2 separate regions of the Homo sapiens genome follow, and region 2 is linked to region 1. The links come from fine-mapping of genetic effects on gene expression. Tissue or cell type: whole blood. Region 1 holds a variant in brackets; the other region holds the start of a gene. All regions are shown on one strand. Distances are from middle to middle.

Region 1 (9,991 bases):
GGTGAGGTGCACTGGAAACTCTGGAGCCTGGCATGCAGCCACAGCTGGACTCCTTCCCACCTACACACCCCCTCCATGGGCAGCTTCAAGTGTGCAGAGCAGACACATTTACCCAGAAGGACACACCAGGGACAAAGAGGAAAAGAGAGACAGGCTTCCTGACCCTCCAGAAGGAAGGGTTGCACGGGAGGAGCAGGGCCACCACTTGCCCCAGGCAGGTCTGGAAGGAACCAGGTCTGAGGGCTCATACCATCCCTGCTCCTCATGTCATCAGTCAGTCATAGCAGGAGAAGCCAAGGCCTCTCTCCCAATTCTGTAACTCCAAAAAGAGCTAGCTCCAGGTTCTCAGGCCCAGGCGTGGAGGAAGAGAGCAAGAGAACAGTTTCTGTACATCAGCAGTTCTCTGTCCTGCTCATCTGCTAGTCTTCACCCTAAAGCTTGGGTCCTCAGGGGCGGCTGGGCCCTCAGGAGAGACTAGCAGTGCCATGAGGCAGGCTACTCCCAAAGCCAGCCACCACTTCTTCATGACTCCTCCTGGGACTAGTTAGCTTCCATCCACAGAGGGCTGTGAAGTGGGTATGAACAGGGCATTACTGAGACTCTGTGGCCACCTGTCCCCTCAACAAACCTCTCCCATGTTTATTTCCTATCTCAAATTATGCTTGTGGTATGTGTCAAGTTGGCTAGACCATGACACCCAGATGTTTGGTCAAATGCCGGTCTAGATGTTGCTGTGAAGGTATGTTTTTAAATGAGATCAACGTTGAAACCAGCAGACTTTGAGTAACGCAGGTGACCCTCCACAGTGTGAGTGGGCCTCATCCAATCGGCTGAACATCTTCAGAGAAAAAGACTCAGGTCCCCCGAGGAAGAGGGAAGTCTGCCTCCAGACTGACTTTGGACTCAAAACTGTAATATCAACTCTTCCCTGAGTCTTCAGCCTGTTGGCCCGCCCGGCAGATGTCAGACTTGCTGGCCTCCATAATCACATGAGCCAATTCCTCTGTCTATAGATAAATATAGATAGATGGACATCGAGATAGAGCTGGAGAAATACAGATACAGACAGATTTCTACCACCTATTGATTCTGTTTATATGGACTACTACAGATTTTAATACCAAGGATGGTTCTAGAGGAACAGAATCTTAAGCATTTTGAGAATCCTTAAGATCTTAAATCTTCAGGAGCTTTCTGAATTGCTTCTGGGGTTTCTGGAATTGGCTCTCTAAGCTGATTACCTTTAAAGGCACTGATGACTACTCCTAATAGTAGAGAGAATGCAGATAGTCCATGGTGTGATGTAACAGTAGAGTTAGGTAAAACATCACTGTTGAATACTCATAATCAAAAATTTATTAAGAGCCAAGGATCTGAGTGGTCATGCATATGGTACCATCAAACATTTTTAATCAAACTAACAAGTATAATGAGATTGGTTGACTGCTCCTGATGTCACTGGACAAAGCGGGGAAAGAAAAGGATGAGCTCGGGAAATCAAATGTTCAGCTCAAGCTCCGCATAAATGACCTGAAAGCTTCTATCCCTGCCCTGAAAGAGACCCTTATTTTCTGTAGCTGCAGAGCTGAGATTGCTGAAAACCAAAACTATAATTGAATCACACCCTACAAGTGGCTGAATTACAACACAAATTGAATTGGACAACCAAGCAGGATGTCTACTCTTAAAATGAGAAATTGATTGGGAAGAAAATGATACTGAAAATTGGTATGGGTGATACAGGAGTTATTACCGAGGCATTACTGAGACTCTGTGGCCGTCTAAGAACAAATCACTTAGGCAAATAGTGAGGGCATGGGAGTCCTCGGTAAGATTTTGTTTTTAATGAAAAGCAGCCCCAAATCATTTTCTAACAAAGAGCAGCCTGTAATGTTGAGCTGCAGACATAGACAAGCAGGCTGGGAGCTTGCACGGGTGAATGCCGGCAGGAACTAGGGACTAGACATGTTCAAGATGGCGGCTCCAACTTCCCTTCTTTGCCAGCCACCTGTACAGTAAGGAGCAGACAAGATGGCTGCTGGCCAAGGGGAGAGTTTATTTGCCTTGTAAGACTAGGGTGCGGTGACCAGCCTTCCCCACACACCATGTAAACGTCATACCTGATGGAACCAATCTGTGAGCCCTACGTGAATCAGACACCCTCTCCTCAAGCCAGACTATAAAATCCCACACATCCCCTGCCAGCCAGTCTTTCCGCTTGGAAGTCCCTTCTTTCAATAGAGAGAGCTGTTCTCCTTTCTCTTTCTTCTGTCTATTAAGCCTCCACTCCTAAACTCCTCATGAGTGTTCGTGTCCTAAATTTCCCTGGCACAAGATGACGAACCCCAGTTATATACCCCAGACAAGGTAGCCACTTCATGGGGACATGTGGGAAGACCCTGATGAAACTGGAGACATTGATCCTCTGTGTTCTGGTAAGTCTTCCTTGCCAGTAGAAGCAGCCTCTCCAGCCCTGACTGAGGGGATTAACTCTGCATTGCCTGGGGAAGCTGCAAAGGCCTCCCCTGAGGCAGCTGCCATGCAAAACAGTGCTGATTCTCCTTGGGACCCAACCCCAACACCCCTTTTTGCTTCTAGAGCTAGAACTAGACCAGAGTCCCAGCATGCCTTTAACAGTAAGGATCAAAGTGTGCCCCATGAGGAGGTGTGCTGCACTCCCAAAGAACCACTTTAGCCAGGGATAGTGGCTCATGCCTGTACCTGTAATTCCAGCACTTTGAGAGGCCAAGGTGGGCGAATCACTTGAGGTCAGGAGTTCGAGGCCAGCCTGGCCAACATGGTGAAACCCCCGTCTCTACTAAAAATACAAAAATTAGCCAGGCATGGTAGTGGGTGCCTGTAATCCCAGCTACTCTGGAGGCTGAGGCATGAGAACCACTTGAACTGGGGAGGCGGAGGTTGCAGTGAGCTGAGATCACACCACTGCACTCCAGCCTGGGTGACAGTGAGACTCAAAAAATAATAATAATAATAAAAATACTTTGGTTTTCTAATTTATACAGACAGAAGTCTGGGAAGCATGCGTAGAAATGGATATTAAAGGTGTTGGATAATAGTGAAAGAAACATAAAAAGTTGGATTGGATCAGGCTGAATTTATTGATATGGGCTCCCTAAGCAGTGATTCTCTATTTAATGTTGCAGCTCAAGGAGTTAGAAAAGGTTCTGTTTGGTTGGTTGACTGCAACACGGGCCAGAAGGTGGCCTACAGTAAGTGAGCTTGAAATGATGGACCTGCCTTGACATGCTATAGAGGGAGGGATTCAAAGACTTAGGGAAGACCGGGCGCGGTGGCTCACGCCTGTAATCCCAGGACTTTGGGAGGCTAAGGCGGGTGGATCACGAGGTCAGGAGATCGAGACCATCGTGGCTAACACGGTGAAACCCCGTCTCTATTAAAAATACAAAAAAATTACCTGGGCGTGGCGGCGTGCACCTGTAGTCCCAGCTACACTGGAAGCTGAGGCAGGAGAATGGCGTGAACTCGGGAGGCGGAGCCTGCAGTGAGCCGAGATGGTGCCACTGCACTCCAGCCTGGCTGACAGAGCAAGACTCCGTCTCAAAAAAAAAAGACTTAGGGAAATTAGAATGTTCAAGTGGATTTATCATTTAAGATCTGCTCACCCTCCTGGGAGGGTACCTACACACCCATTCTCTTACTCCAATCAGGTGGCACCACCTACCATCCACAGTCCTTGAGAATCCCAGAAAAGAAACAGAGGAACGATATTTTCCTGACCTAGTCTATGATGTGAGCCATAAGGATTTGCCCAATAGTCCATGCCTGGTCTCTGCTCAGATCAGTACTGGGGTGTGGCTGCTGTTTCTGGCTGCTCTGAACTTGGAATGGACAAGAGAAACACATGCAGGAAATGGCAAGGCAGGATGTCTGCCCTGGAAAAGATGGAGAGAGACACAGAGAGACAGAGAGAAAAAGACACAAAGAAAGACACAGAGACAGACACAGAGAGACAGAGACAGGCAAAGAAAGAGAGAGACAGACAGAGAGATTGAGAGGAAAGAGAAAGAAAAACAAGATTGAGAGAGAAGAGAAGGAGACAGGGAGAGAGAAAGAGACTAAGAAAAAGAGTGCAGATGGCAGAGTTCTCCCAGGAGATCAGAGAAGCAAAGTGCAAGGAAAGGGCAGGAGAAGGTGGTCAGGTGCATTCCAGGACCAAACTTCACCTCAGTGTCCCTCAGACCTCAAGGGATGTGGCAGAACAAAGAGCAAACAGGGTGCCAGGGCTAGACCTGCAGGGTATCTCCTGGTTACCTAGGGACCACAGCCAAGGGAGGGGAGGGAGGAGCCCAGCATGGCCCTACCTACTGTAAACAGGCAACTACCCCTTTCTGAAAGGAGGGCAGAGCCAAACACTTCTGCTCCCCTAAACAGGAGCCAAGACTGTGCATGGATCAGTGATGCAATGGGAAGGAGTATCTCCTGGTCCCTCCCCATCTCTGTTTGTCTGTATCTCTCTCTCTCTCTCACATACACACACACACACACACACACACACACAGAGAGAGAGAGAGAGAGAGAGACAGAGAGACACAGAGACAGAGAGAGACAGAGAGACAGAGACAGAGAGAGAGAGAGAGAAATGCCCATTATGGACTAAAATTCATGTTAGAATCCTAACCCCCAAGGTGATGATATTTGGAAGTGAGACCTTTGGAGCTAATTAGGTCATGAGGGCAGAGCCACCATGAATGGGCTCAGCACCTTCATAAAAAAGGCCCGAGAGCGCTCCCTTGTCCCCTCCATCATGTGAGGACATCACAAGAAGGTGACCGTCTCCCAGCTGGAAGCAGGTCCCCACCAGTCACCCCACAGTGCTGGCACCCTGACCTGGGGCTTTCAGCCTCCAGAACTGTGAGAAATAAATTTCTACCGTTTATAAGCCACGTCAGCTATTGTATTCCATCATATGAGCCCCAGCTGGCTGAGACGGTGCCCCAGCCTCTCCCAGGGAGTTTAACTTAACTGCTTTTCTCCACTTATTGCCTGGAGCACTCCCATCCCTGGGGCTGGGTTCTGGATGAGAGGCCAGGGATGGCACAGGTGCTCAGTGCCTCTCCTCCCTGCACATTGGAGGCTGCTACTGGAGGAGTCATGGAGTCAGTTACTTCTCTACCTGGGGTGAGGGGGCTTCCAGGCAGCCCCATACAGCTCCACTGTAGGGTATGCCCTGCATGTGAGCAGGGGATGCGGTCTTCTCACGTATTCTCCACAGCCCCTAGAGACGTAGAAAGCCGCGGCCATTCAACATATGTCACTGGGCAGGCGGTGCCTCTAATACTGGTAATGCTAGAGGTGATGTTTTTGGTAAACAGGCGGGGTAAGATTTGCCGAGTTCCTTTTACTTTTTTTAACCTTTCCTTATAAGCATGCCTGTGTTGGGTTAACAGTATGGGTAGCACCGGTTTGTCTAAAACCAGCCACTCTCTAACCCTGAAGCCCTGGGAAAGTCCCTTCATTTCTCAGGAACAGTTTCTCCCCTGGCAGGTGGAATAAGTCATAATAGAACCAACTCAGACCTCCTGGAGACTGGGAATTTATAGGGATATTAGCATAATAAGAAACAAATTTGATCTTGGAAATATAAGGAATGGTAAGAATTCAAAGTGACCATGTGATGAATGAATAAGCATAATGAATAAAATATGATATGATTTTCTATAACGACTGTATCATCCCTCCCCAACCCATCCCCAGCAAGTCCATGGTATGCATTTGTGCTAAAATAAAGCATGTTACTAAAATAAAATCTTCACCCTGAAGGATTTCCAATTTCTCCTGTCGTATTACTGACTTACAATGATTGACTATTTCTTTGTTATTATTATTATTTTAGGCAGAGTCTCACTCTGTCACTCAGGCTGGAGTGTAGTGGTGCCAACACAGCTCACTGTAGCCTTCACCTCCTCCTCCAAGTGATCCTCCTGCCTCAGCCTCCCAAGTATCTGGGACCACAGGTGTGTGCCATCACGCCCAGCTAATTTTTTTTTTTTAAGACAG[T/G]GTCTCACTCTGTTACCCAGGTTGGAGTGCAGTGGTGCGATCTCGGCCCACTGCAACCTCTGCCTCCCAGGTTCAAACAATCCTCCCACCTCAGCCTCCCAAGTAGCTGGGATCACAGGTGCACACCACCACATCTGGCTAATTTTTTGTATTTTTGGTAGAAACGGGGTTTCATCATGTTGCCCAGGCTGGTCTTGAACTCCTGAGCTCCAGGGATTCACCCACCTTGGCCTCCCAAACTGCTGGTATTACAGGCGTGAGCTACTGCACCTGGCCTCAGCTAATTATTTTATGTTTTGTAGAAACGGGGTCTCACCATTTTGCCCAGGCTGGTCTCGAACTCCTGGGCTCAAGCAATCCTCCCATCACGCCCAGCTGACTATCGCTTTAAAACAAGTGTTCCATTGGTTAAAACTTGGAAATTCTTATATATTTTTCGGTTTACAGTACTCAGAGAATTAAAATGGGGCATGATCATACTTTAGCTTTCCTTTTGGATTCTGATATAATAACTTAGTGATTAATAATAGATAACATTTTTGAATATTTAATATGCACAAGGAACTACTAGGTGCTTTACATGCATTATCTTATTTAATAAGACCATATCATGTATTATTACGACAATAATAGTCATCATTTGTTAAGAGCTTACCTCTAACCACAATCATCAAGCAACCCTTCAATCCTGTGGACCTGATGATCCCCAGGCTCAGAAAATTGTGTCCCAAAGCAAAAAAGTAGGAAATGGCTCAGCTGAAATGTGAATGCATATTTCTAACTTCAAAGCTTTTTCTTCCACGACTCATTGAACTATCACATTAGCTTTCCTTCTCTTCTGAACAACTTTTTGATTTGAACTTCTTTTGAACAGCATTTATTATTCAAGTATTTTTCCAAATATGTTCTTATCTTTTCCTTTCCTTAATGATTTCTTTTGAAGCAAAAAAGTTAAGACGAAGTCCAATTTATAGTTTTTGTTCCTTTACAAACTGTGCTTTTGGTGTTATATCTAAGATATCTTTGCCTAACCCAAGGTCTCAAAGATTTTCTCTTAGGTTTTCTTCAAGATTTTTATTTTATTAACCCTTAAAGTCTATGATACATTTTGAGTTATTTTGGTATACAGTAATGAAAGAATCTAAGTTTATCTTGGCTGGCAACTTCAATAATGTTTCATAATTTTCAGTATACAATTTTTGTACTTCTTTTGATAAATTTATTCTTACTTATGTTATTCTTTTTGATGCTATTGTAAGAGGTATTGTATTCTTACTTTCATTTTCAGGTTATTTGTAAATAAAAATACAATTGGTTTTTTTTTTTTTCTTTTGAGATGGAGTCTCACTCTGTCACCAGGCTGGAGTGCGGTGGTGCCATTTTGGCTCACTGCAACCTCCACCTCCTGGGTTCAGGCAAAATACAATTGATTTTTATAAACTGATCTTGTATAGTACATCCTTGTTATACTTGATCATTAGTTCTAACAGCCTGTATGTGTGTATATTTGTGTGTGTGTATATTCTTTAGGATTTTCTACATGCAAGATTATGTCTTCTGCAAACACAGTCAGTTTTACTTCTTGCTTTCAAATGTAGATACCTTTCATTTCTTTTCTTTTTTTTTTTGCCTGATTGATCTGGCTAGAACCTCCAGCAAGTTTTGAAAAGAAGTGGCAAGTGTACACATCTTCGCCTGCTATGAGTTTAGGTTTTTTTGTAGATGACTTCTATCAGGCTGAGGAAATTCCCTTCTTTTCCAAGTTTATGGAGAGTATTTTGTCATGAATGGACGTTGGATTTTGTCAAATACTTTTTCTGCATCTATTGAAGTGACCATGTGGCATTTGTCCTTTCTTCTATTAATATTAGTTGATTTTTTGAATGTTAAATCGACTTTGTAGTCCTAGGATAAATCCCTCTTGGTCATAGTGTCTAACCATTTTTAGATTTTGCTGGATTTAGTTTGCTAGTATTTCGTTGATAATTTTTGCATCTATATTCGTAAGAGATGTGGGTTTGTAGTTTCGTTTTTTTGTTGTTGTTGTTGTGGTATGTTTGACTGACTTTTGTATCAGGGCCTCATACAGTCAGTTGGGAACTGTTACTCTTTTTTCTATTTTCTAGACTAGTTTGTGAAGAATTGTTGTCAATTCTTCTTTAAGTGTTTAGTAGAACTTACCAATGAAGCCATATGGGCCTGGGCTTTTTCTGTGAGAAGTTTATAAATTACTAATTTAAGTTACTAATTAAATATTTTTACTTCTCATAGTTCTATTCAGATTTTTAATTTCTCCTTGAGTCAGTTTTAGTAATATGTGTCTGTCTAGTAATTCATCCATTTCATCTATGTTGTTGAATTTATTGGCATAAAGTTATTTTTAGTATTCCCTTTTAATCCTCTACTTTCTGAAAGATCAATAGTAATACCACTTTTTCATTATTAATTTTGATGATCTGTGTCTCCTCTTCCTCTTTTTCAATAATAAAAAGGTTAGCCAATTTTGTTGATCTTCTCAAAAAACCAACTTTTGGATTTACTGATTTTCTCCATATTTTTTCTATGTCTATGTCATTGGTTTCAGTTCTAATCTTAATTATTTAGTTTTCTCTTATTTTTAGGATTCTTGAATAAAATCCTAGGTTGTTGATTTGGGATTTTTATTCTTTTCTAATATTTCTTAAATTTTCCTTTGTTATCTTTACTAAATATTTAAGTCATTTTCTTGGCACTAGCTTTGAGGATTACATTACATATTTTAACTTAATCTTAACTTTATTGCAATAGTATAGAGAAACTTGACTTCAGTATAGTATCTTCTCTCCCCACTCCTTTGTGCTATAATTGTCATATAAATTACAACTTTATACACTAAAAGCTTATAACACCATTTTGCAATTGTTTTTTTCAGTTGTCATTTAAAATCAGTTAGGGGAAGAAAAGAGTTTAAAAATATATCTTTATACTATCTTTTGTCTTTTATCTTTTACCTGTACAATAACCTTTGCTGGTTTATTTCTTCATGTGGATCTGAGTTGCTAGTCTAGTGTCCTCTCTTTTCAATCTGAAAGACTCTCATTATATTTCTTATAAGTCATGTCCCCAACAATGAATTATCTCAGTCTTTGTTTATCTGAAAATGTCTTTATTTCTCCTTCACTTTTCAAAAATAATTTGATTGGATATAGAATTTTGAGTTGACAGTCTTTCTTTCAACACTTTCAACATTTTGAATATGTCATTTCACTGTCCTCTGACTCTCATGGTTTCTGATGAGAAGTCAAATGTTAATCTAATTGATAAATCATTTTTCTCTTGCTGTTTTCAAGATTTTCTCTCTCTCTGTCTTTTTTTTTTTTTTCTTTTTTTTTAACATGCTCTGTCGCCCAGGCTGGAGTACAGTGGTTCAGTCTTGGCTCACTGCAACACCCGCCTCCTGGGTTCAAGCAATTCTCATGCCTCAGCCTCCCAGGTAGCCGAGATTACAGGTGCACGCCACCATACCCAGCTAATTTTTGTATTTTTAGTAGAGATGGGATTTCATCATGTTGGCCAGACTGGTCTTGAACTCCTGACCTCAGGTGATCCGCTTGCCTCGGCCTCCCAAAGTACTAGGATTACAGGTGTGAGCCACTCCACCCAGCCGAGATTTTCTCTTTGACTTTCTTCAGTTTGACTATGATATGTTTACATTTAGATCTCTTTTTGTTTGTTCTACATAGAACTTCTTTTATGAACTTTTTGGGTGAGTAAATATGTTTCTCATCAAAATAGGAAAATTTTCAGCCATTATTTCTTCAAATAGTTTTTTTCTTCCTCTCTCCTTCACCTCTCCGTCTGAAACTACCATTATGTTGGTATACTTGATGGTGACCCATAGATCTCTGAGACTGTTCATTTTCCTTCATTCTTTTTTCTTTCTGTTCCTTGGACTAGATAATCTCTAGTGGTC
Region 2 (9,991 bases), 94 kb after region 1:
TGAAGCTTGACCGTGCCACCCTCCAGATGCCCCACTGGCACGGAGCCAGAAGACAGAGACCTCATCCTGTTTAGTTCCTGATTTGCTGTGTGACTCCAAGCAGGGCCCTTCACCTTTCTGGTCCTTTGTCTCCCCATCTGTAAAAAAGAGTGATTCTGATTCTGTGTGTTTCCATTGGTTAATAATTGTGCACCTACAAAATCTCTGTCAAGGTTAGCTTCCATCGGGCCCCAACTTCCTATTCCCACCACTGCTGACCCCAGCCTCCAGCTTGTCCCACCCATGAGCTGCTGCTCCACGACCCTCTGGCTGCTGGCAGCACCTGCCCCTCTTCCTCCACAATCAGACTGTCCCCCATTACCACAGCCTCCTTCCTGGACACCAGCAGCTCCCACTTCTGTGTATCCCAAGCTGCTGACCCCAGGTTCTCTTGTAGCACAGCTCTAGACCCTGAAGTGCTTTGAAGGAACCAAAAAGTAATAAGAGACTCAAAAGTGAAGCCATTCTTCTATAAGGCTGGTAGGGACCACCATTCATGAACCCACCCAGAAAGCCCTGAGGCTTGGGGGCTCTATCCCTAGTTCCTCTGGGCACTGTCATCTTTCAGGGCAGCCACCAGAGATAGGACAGACCCAGCAGAGTCAACTGCACAATAGGCTCACCCAGGCCACAGCCCAGGCCTATTGCATGGGAGCCTCTGGGGTGTGAAACCAATAATTCATGTTTGTTAAAACCTCCAAGTGATTCAGACATGGGGTCAAGGCTGAGACTGAGAGATGGAAAGCAATGTGTCTCCACTCAGATGTGCAGGCCATCACCTGAAGACCTCAAGCAATGTAGATTCCAGTCCAGCAGGCTTGGAGGCCAAAGCACTCATCTCTGCAAGCTCCAGGCAAGCCCCTTCTGCAGGTCCGAGGACCACACTCCAAGGAGTAAGGGCATGGGGGATGGAAGAGCAGCAAGCAGGAGCCAGAAGGCTCTAGGTGCTCACCTCGGCTCTGCCCCTGACCCTGACACTCACTCACTTGCCCCTCTGAGCCTCAATGTCCCCATTCAGAAACAGAACCAGTGGCACCTACCTGGCAGACCCTTGCCCCATTTCTCTTTCCCTTCAGCCAGGCTCTCCACCCCCCTCAGTACTGACCAGTGCTCCCTGAATGCCCTGTTCTAAGTGTGGCCCAACCCGCCAAGCCCTACAACAGCCAGACAGGGCAGGTACTTAAAGACTGAAACCCTGTGGCAGGGTGGGTCAGCTGCTTCCTCACTTAGACAAGGCAGGGGAGTCAAGGTTCAAAGCCAGGCCACCTGCCCACAGAGCTGTCTCCAGGTGGCATGTCACCATTGCCTCACACTGACACCCTCACTCCAATTCCCACCCTTGGTCTGCCAAGCAGGGCTGCATCCAAGGCTCACCTCCTTGCCCTGAGGGCTCCTGGCTGGAGTGGCCCCACTTAGCCCTGGTCCCCGATCCCCACCTTCCTTTCCTTCTCTCCCAGTGGGCACTTCCAAGCTCCATGTCAAGCCTGGGCTCTGCAACAGATTCTGGAGTACAGGTCGGCATTGATCCTGGGAAGGGCCTGAAAAACATCATGCCTCCTTCACCACCTCCCTCAGTTTAGAGATGGGACGATGGAGGCCCAAAAGAAAGCGACTTTCCCAAGGCCTCCCTCTGCCACCCTGCTCAACTGCACCTGCCTGCAGGTGAAAAGACAGCCCTGGCATAAGTGACCAAGGGGTGCAAGCCCCAGGGACCACGTGGAGTCACACGAGGACTAAGGCGGCCTGTGCACCTTCACCCTAAAGCTGCCCCTGCCTTGGACTCTGAAGGTTCGCCTAGCTGCTCTCCACATCCAGCTCCTGTCCTCACCCCTGGGTCTGGCGTCACTCCCTAACAGATTCTCTCAGCACCCTTGGGTGGGTCTCCTGAGCTCCGCCCACCATCCCAATGGGCACGAGCCAGGCTAGCCCCACCCTGTCCCTCCTGGCCAGTGCCCACACCTGCAGCCTGGTCCACCTGGACCCCTAGGTCTGAATCTGAACCCCTAGACCTGGACCACTTGGCCTGGTCCCCCCTCAGCCTACTCTGACTGTCACCTATCAGGCCACCGAGACCCAGCCCAGTTCTTCTTCCTCCTCTGCCTCCCCCTCCTTCCCCTTCTTCCTCTCTTCCTCCTTCCCCTGTCCTTCTTTACCCTCCTCCCCCTCCCCTGTTTCCTCTCCTCTCCTTCCTTCCTCCTCTTCTTGGAAGTCAGAATGAATCTGAACCACTGCCTTCTCCTCCCCAGCCCTTTCCTGGAGGTATTTGCCGCAGCCAGCCCAAGTCATGGCTGTTCCTACAGCCCACCTCCCTACACAGGGCCTGTGTCTGCCACATTTTCACATTAACTATGATGCTCTGAAACACAGCTCAGGGACAAGGTCCTGATAAGTATTCATTACCCTCAGGCAACTATTATTCTCCCTGAGCCCCTGATCTCCCTCACTGAGCCAGGCAAAGACAGCATCAATTCCCCACCACCCCCAGTGCCAGGGCATTGCCCAGCCCCTCCCCCACGGCTCTACAAATACCCACCCAGGTCGCACAGCTATCTAAAAAGAGAAGGAGGGGTCCCTGACAACATGCCCCTCCCTGAATCTCTGCATGCCCCAAATCTCTACATACTCCATAATCTTCACATGCCCCATCGCAAGGACCTGGCTCAGGCAGATTGTAAATGTGCCTTTGAGGACCACATGCCATCCTCAGGCAGGTGTTCTGGGATAACTCCTCTACCCACGGAGGTGCTATGAGGATGCCTGTGACAGCACCAGCCCTGGGCCTGCACAAGGCAGGCACCCTGAGAAACCAAGTGCCCTCCCCAGGGAGCTCATTTCTAGTGCACATGAGGCTTGAGGGGCTCCCAGCAAAACCTGACAACCCACCCAATGTTAGAACAATGGTGTAAAGACAGATTCCTGGCAACACCACAAAAGAGGGCCATTGCCAATCAAGCTACTGGCTGCATTAGTAAAGGTCGCAGGAACTGAATCAAAATAGAAATCCATTTTGGTTGGTTTCATTGGGAAACAAAGAACATGCCGGCCTGTGTTTCTTTTGTCTCAGGGACTTCCAGACGCCACTGAGAGATGATAAACAGCCAAACAGATGCATTTCCGCCAGAAAGGGCTTTTGTGGCTAGTCATTTGGAAATGAAACACAGGCGCTCTCCCCCTCCTTGACAGAAAGAGCATCGACGAGACTGGCAAGTGGCTGCCATGGGCCACGGTCAGTCGACCTTGGGAGGCTGTGGATTCTGGGCGGTTCTGCCCCTGGTCTCTGTGGTTGGGCAACTTCCTCTCTAACCTCCAGATTTCTGTTTCCTTATGAAGAATAGGTAAGAGCATGGAGGTCAGATAACCTCCAAGGAACCTCCAGTGCCAAAAATCTATGGGCCTCTTCTTGGCCAATCACCACCTTCAAGTCTTTTTTTTTTTTTTTTTTTTTTTTTTTTTTTTTTTTTTTTTGAGGCAGAGTCTCGCTTTGTCACCAGGCTGGAGTGCAATAGCATGATCTCGGCTCACTGCAATCTCCGCCTTCCAGGTTCAAGCGATTCCTCTGCCTCAGCCTCCTGAGTAGCTGAGACTACAGGTATGCACCACCACACCCGGCTAATATTTTGTATTTTTAGTAGAGACGGAGTTTCACCATGTTGGCCAGGATGGTCTCGATCTCCTGACCTCGAGATCTGCCCGCCTTGGCCTCCCAAAGTGCTGGGATTACAGGCGTGAGCCACCGCACCCGGCCGGCCACCTCCAAGTCTTTAATTCACCAGAGTTACTGCTATCCAACCATGGCCCTTGGGCCCACTTGATTCAGTAGAATCAATATGACCACAGGTAACATGGCAGCAGGACATCATTTAATGATAAAAACGATGGTACCATGTTCATACGCTTGCACACACAGGCACACACACTATGGTGCTCCATCTTTGGGTGCTGTGAGTGAGCCTCATGAGGCCCAGTGCAGTCACTGGTGGGTGCCTTCCCATACCTCCCCTTGTTTAAGCATGAACCCTTCCACCCCACAATCCCATGCCCAACACAAGGTGATAGGGACTAAACTGAATGGAATCAAACTGACGGTCTCAGCAGCCCTTTACAGATTGCTATTATTACATCTACATTGCAGCTCGGAAACTGAGGCCAGTGAGTGCTTTATAATCTTGGGATCATGATCAGGATTTTCACCCAGACCAGAAGAGTCCAGTCAAGAGCTGGGCACCACAGCAAAGTGTCCTGCTGAGTAGACAACTGCTGGACTTCGCATCCCCACAGCCCCACACAGCATCAAATGCTTTCTGGAAAAAGGTCTGGAATTCTCAAAGAAGCCCCAGAGGCCTGCACCCTCCCTGCTGGTCCTCCTGAGCTAGTCCTCAGTCAAGAGGAACCCACCCAGCTCCTTCCTTCCAGACACAGCAGCATCCAGGGCAGATGTGGGTTCCAGTCCCGGATACCTCTGACACATCGGCCTGGGACCATGAGCAAGTTTTACCTCTCCCTGAATCTCACTCTGGCCAGTCGAACACTGGGAGGGTCTGCTGAGAAGCTGGACCTGGTCCCTATTCTGGCCAGGGAGCGTGAACCCATGTCCCATTGGAGGGGGACAGTCAGGACCAACACAACAGGACAAAGAAGTGGCCCTCAGGAACTGGGTCCACGAGAGACAGGATTATTAAGGGGGGATTCTGTGCAGGCGGAAGCCTGTGGTCCTTCTCAATTTGATACTGGAGATGATCAGGAAAGCCTCAGCTTCTCCCAGAATGAATTGAGAGGACCTTCCTTCCACTATAGCGACCAAGATCTCCACCTAAGGGGCGCTCACTGGAAGTTTGCTGAAATCCCAAATCAGCATGCTCCTGATTTCAGAAGCTGCCATCCACCTTTGCACTTCAACACAAAATCCACCACATCCTAGGCTCCAGCCCTGGAACACCAAATGAAGCCACACAAGTTCTGCACACCAAGACCTCTTCAATGGAAGGAAAATGACCACTGAGTTTGGTCCACCCTTTTCCCACCTCCCGTACCAAATCCCAAATCATCAAAACAGGCCCAACTCTGCATCTTACAGCCAGGGAAACTGGGGACCACCAGGCCAGGGCCCTCCATCACCAATGTCCCCCCCAGAACTGGCCAGGCTCAGTCACCACTCAGTGGACCCCAGCCCTCAGCAAGCACTCTTCCCCAACAGCCTTTACACACATTCTCTCTCTCTCTCTCTCTCTTACTTTTTCTTGGATAATTTCTTTAGCAAGGTACTTCAAAACAAGCTTTTAGTTTAATCTATTTCCATTTTGTGAGCAATGGTTCTTCCTAGAGTCCTGATTTCTTGCCGAAGAAGGCATTAGGAGAGGATGGCTCAGAGAGTCGCCCCGCTTCCCCTCTCAGCCAGTTCCAGGACACACACAGGCGTCCACACACTGAGGGGCCCTGGGAGGACCAGCTACCCAGTCCGGAGTCCACCCGCCCACGCCCCTGTGAGTGGTGGGCAGGCACTCAATGCCAGGACAGAGAGCTCACTACCTTACAGACAGCCCACCCTGGGGGATAAGGGGTAAAGAGCCAGACCTGGTCCACCTCTTCTCGCCCACCCTGAGGCGACCCCAGAACCGGGGCGTGGGGGGACATCACAACTAGAAGGACCGGGGGCTGCCGGACCCTGCCGTCAGAAGACCCCGGAGGGGGCCCTGTGCCTCCCTTGCCCGCCAGAGTCCTTCGCCTTCAGCTTCTCCCGGGTGGAACCCTCCCGCAGAGCCTGGGAATCCCGCCAGGGTCACTGTGCGCCCCTCCCGAGCTCCGGGGCAAGGGAAGGACCGCGGCGCAGGTGCGGGAAGGCGCGGGTCCACCCGGGTCCGGTGAACCCCGAGGAGTGGGGGCGCCCCCGGTGCGGGCCGTCGCCCCCTTACCGCAGAGCAGCAGCAGCAACGGGAGAAGTTGCGGGCGCCGCAGCGCTCCAGTCTCCATGGCTGGCCGGCCGCAGCTGGGTCACGCTCGGTCCCGCTGGGGGCGCGGCTGGGGGACGCCCGGTTGGGGTTGGGGTGGGGCGGGGCCTCAGGGGGTCCGCCCTCAGGCCGCACCCCCAGACCACGCCTGCGGCCGTGCCCCGTTGCCTCCAGATGTGGGGTGCAGTCCCTGCAGGCGCGCCGGGTGGGAGGGATGGGGGCGGCTGGAGTCTCAGCGGGGTGAGAGGGGGGCGAGGGCAGGGTTTCGAGCTGGGGACAAGCTGGGGTAAGGTGGGGTGCCGGCTGATGGGCTCTGAGGGCGGGGCTGGGGTGCTGAGCTGCAAAGGAGCTTTTTGGGAGCAGATTGTAGGGGCAGACTGGGAGGTGAGCTGGGGTGAGCGTGGGGGCCGGCTGACGGTGGGCTGGGATGCAGGCTGGAGAGACTTGGGGAACTTCCGTCCAGGCTCAGGGGCAGAGGGTGGGGGTAGACCGGGGAGGGAGCTGAGGTGAGGATGAAGCGCTGGCTGATGATGGCCTAGAGGAGTCTGGGGGTAGACTGGAGGAAGGTGGACCTGGGAGTGGGCTAGGTGTGCCCTGGCCGAAAGTAGACCAGAGTCCAGAGCTGCCCCCAGGCAGGGAGGGGAACTTTGAGCAGAGATACATCTAGGAGCCAGGTCTCCAAAGGTCAGGAAAGTGCATAAAAGAGGTTGGGGGGTGTGTGTGTGTGCGTCTGTGTGTGTGCGTGTGTGTGTTGTTCATGGAGTACGTGTGTGTGATGTGCATGTGGGGTGTGTGTAGATGCATGTGTGTGCATGGAGTGTGTGATGTATGGTGTGTGTGTGGCATGTGTGTGTTTGAGTCTGAGACAAGGTGTGTTTGTGAGTGTATGCTTGGGAAACAGTGTGTATGAGAGAGACTGGAGGGTGTGGCAACTACACACACAGAGACGTATCACACACCAAGAACCAAGCCACAAGCAAACCAAGGGACAGGAGAGTATCTGGCACCACCAAAGACCTGGCCTTGAAGAGTGTCAGGGTCCCTGAGGCGAAGGAGGGCCTCAGTTTCTCCAGCCACAGGTCACTTGGCCAGATGGGTCACCTCTGTCACCCTCAGCCCCTAGCACAGGCCCTGGCTCCAGTGGACACTTAATGGTGTCTTAAGAATTGTCACTGGTCAGGACTTCCGAGAGCCAGCTAGAGGCACCTCTCTGCCCTCCAGGGCCCACCCACCACCCCTGGGGGCACATGCTGGTCTGAGGTTGGGGCACAGGCCCAGGCTCCTACATGGATGGGCCCTCCACTCCTCTGAGCCGTAGGTACTGCTACCTTCCCAGGAGCTGAGCTGAACTTCTCCTGGCTTAGAAAGACCCACTTTATTTAACAAGACCCTTATTCGGGAGAAGAACTTTCTGTGCTTTTTTACTGAAGAAATTCTGATTACAGCCAGAATTAATTCAAAGGAGTCAAAACTAATTAAAATTGATCATTTGTCCTGCCTTCTGCCTGAGGGGTGGGCAGCAGGTGTAGGGGTGGCCACAGAGCCTCTAGTGAGACTGATGGTGCCCACAGCCAGGCCTTCTGCCCACAGGCCAGGGGTCATAAAACAAGCTGACCAGGGCAGCAGGGGGCTGGCTTACACACACGCACACCCTACACCAGCCAAGACAAACCAAGAGGATGGTCCAGGCCCAGGTGTCCACCCACATCCCACACAGACTCGGCCCTACAGCTCTCTCCAGGAGAGTCTTAGTCTCCACTCGGTCCCACAGCCCCAAAGGCGGTTGCACATAGCTTGCAGGCTGGAACAGTAGGATGGGGTTGTCAGGTGGGAGGGGGGCAGCCAGTTCCCCCAAGCCTGCACCAGGGAGCAATGCTCCCTTTCCTGGACTCCCCACCCTGGCTCTGCAGTGGGGAAGCCCTGGCCATTCTACAGAGTTGGGTTCCAACACCTCTCCTCCATGGAACCAACCATGCCCCAACAAACTCCCAGGGAGTTGTGTCTACTGCCCCTAGGTCCCTCTAAGGCAGGGCCCTCACTTCTCCTCTCTGTGCCCAGTGGTGCCCATGGCCTCTGCAGGGCAGGTGGGTTTAACACAGGCTGTGAGGAGCTGAGCCATGGGAGAGAGGGACCTGCCCCTTCCACGGTGCATCCCCCCGACCCTGAGTGTGGAAAGGCTGCCGCCATAAATGAGATTGACCATGGGGTGTGCCCTGGACAGCACCTGTCTCCCTGCTTGTCCCTCGGTGGGTGCTGGCCCCGGCACCATTCCCTGTGTCTGCGATCCTGTGTGCACTGGGGTCCTCTCAGGAATCCCCTCTTAGCGTTCATAATTATTTATTTATTTTATTTATTTATTTATTTATTTATTTATATTTTTTTTAGAAGGAGTTTCATTGTTATTGCCCAGGCTGGAGTGCAATGGCATGATCTTGGCTCACTGCAACCTCTGCCTCCGGGGCTCAAGAAATTATCTTGCCTCAGCCTCCCGAGTAGCTGGGATTACAGGCTTGTGCTACCATGCCCGGCTAATTTTTGTATTTTTAGTAGAGACGGGGTTTCTCCATGTTGGTCAGGCTGGTCGCGAACTCCCGACCTCAGGTGATCCTCCTGCCTCGACCTCCCACAGTGCTGGGATTACAGGCGTGAGCCACCGCGCCCGGCCGGTTCATAATTCTTTACACCAAACTTCCCCATTCAGGTTGCGGTGTAGTCTCTCTCCTGATCAAGCCCTGATTCACCATTATCATGATATTTATTCTGTGATTCCTCTTATTCTTAAATAGTTGTAAGAGAACATTTTCTTGACACTCAAGTGGCCTCTTCTAAGAGGAAGAAATAACATCCTGGTGTTTCTACCAGATCAGGGGAACACATGGCCGCTGGGCCTTCACTCTCCCTGGAAGTAATGCTTCTGCCCGGAGTCCACGTGTCCAGGCAAGGGCCTGAGCACAGAACCTGGTGAGGTTTGGGATCTGGTTCTGCTTGCTCTGGGGCTAGACTTCAGGAGGGTGGGGGTTGAGAAGGAGCCAAGGGAAGCCATTCCCGGGCACCTGGCTCCCCCTGCTGGACAGACACTGAAATAACGGTATCATTGTCGATGAGACTACGCCTCTGTCCCTGAGGCAGCAGCAACGCCTCGGTGACCCCTCTCCAGGGACACAGAGGACCGGTCTTCAAAGAAGGGTGATGAAGGAGATTCCAGGAAGGGGTGCCTCTGACCCTCAGCTGTTTTCCACCTTCCCACGGATCAAGACACAGCCTTCCATCTCCTGTTGCGTTTGTTTGCTCATTTGTTTAATTGCAATAAAAAATACTTAACGTCAAATCAAGCATTTTAGGATGGGTGTGGTGACTTATGCCTGTAATCCCAGCACTTTGAGATGCCGAGGTGGGCTAACTGCTTGAGCTTAGGAGTTCTAGACCAGCCTGGGCAACATGGTGAAACCCCGCCTCTACAAAAAAAATACAAAAATTAGCCGTGTGTGGTGAGGTGCGCCTGTAGTCTCAGATACTGTGGAGGCTGAGATGAATTTCCTTTTTTTTTTTTTTGAGACATAGTTTTGCTCTTGTCACTCAGGAGTGCAATGGTGCCATCCCGGCTCACTGCAACCTCCACCTCCTGGATTCAAGCGATTCTCCTGCCTCAGCCTCACAAGTAGCTGGGATTACAGGCCCTCCCACCACGCCCAGCTAAATTTTGTATTTTTGGTAGAGATGGGGTTTCACCATGTTTGCCAGGCTGGTCTCGAACTCCTGACCTCAGGTGATGCGCCCACCTCAGCCTCCCGAAGTGCTGGGATTATAGGTGTGAAGCACTGCGCCCGGCCTCCTTCCTTCTTAAGGCTGAATAATATTCTGTTGTGTGGATAGACCACATTTCATTTACCCATTCATCTGCCATTCATTTCCTTTTTTAAGTCAATGAAGCAAGTTTACTTTCATTTTATTTTATTTTTGAAAAACCTATCAGAAAATGTCTTGAGGAAAATACATTAAAATGTTAT

What was found. PIP is the estimated chance that this variant, and not a neighbour inherited with it, causes the effect.
Region 2: it holds the start of RAMP3, and the variant in region 1 is fine-mapped to the expression of RAMP3 in whole blood (TOPMed, PIP above 0.99).

The regions. Positions count from the first base shown.
Region 1 is chr7:45,247,410-45,257,400 of GRCh38, reverse strand. No RefSeq gene overlaps it. Among named protein-coding and RNA genes, the nearest start is that of RAMP3, 95 kb to the right of the region's middle. The variant T/G (reference allele first, on the strand shown) is at 6,040.
Region 2 is chr7:45,153,844-45,163,834 of GRCh38, reverse strand. It overlaps RAMP3 (receptor activity modifying protein 3), which reads right to left and starts at 6,044. Exons shown (of 3, transcript NM_005856.3): 1 at 5,949-6,044. The coding sequence starts at 6,006.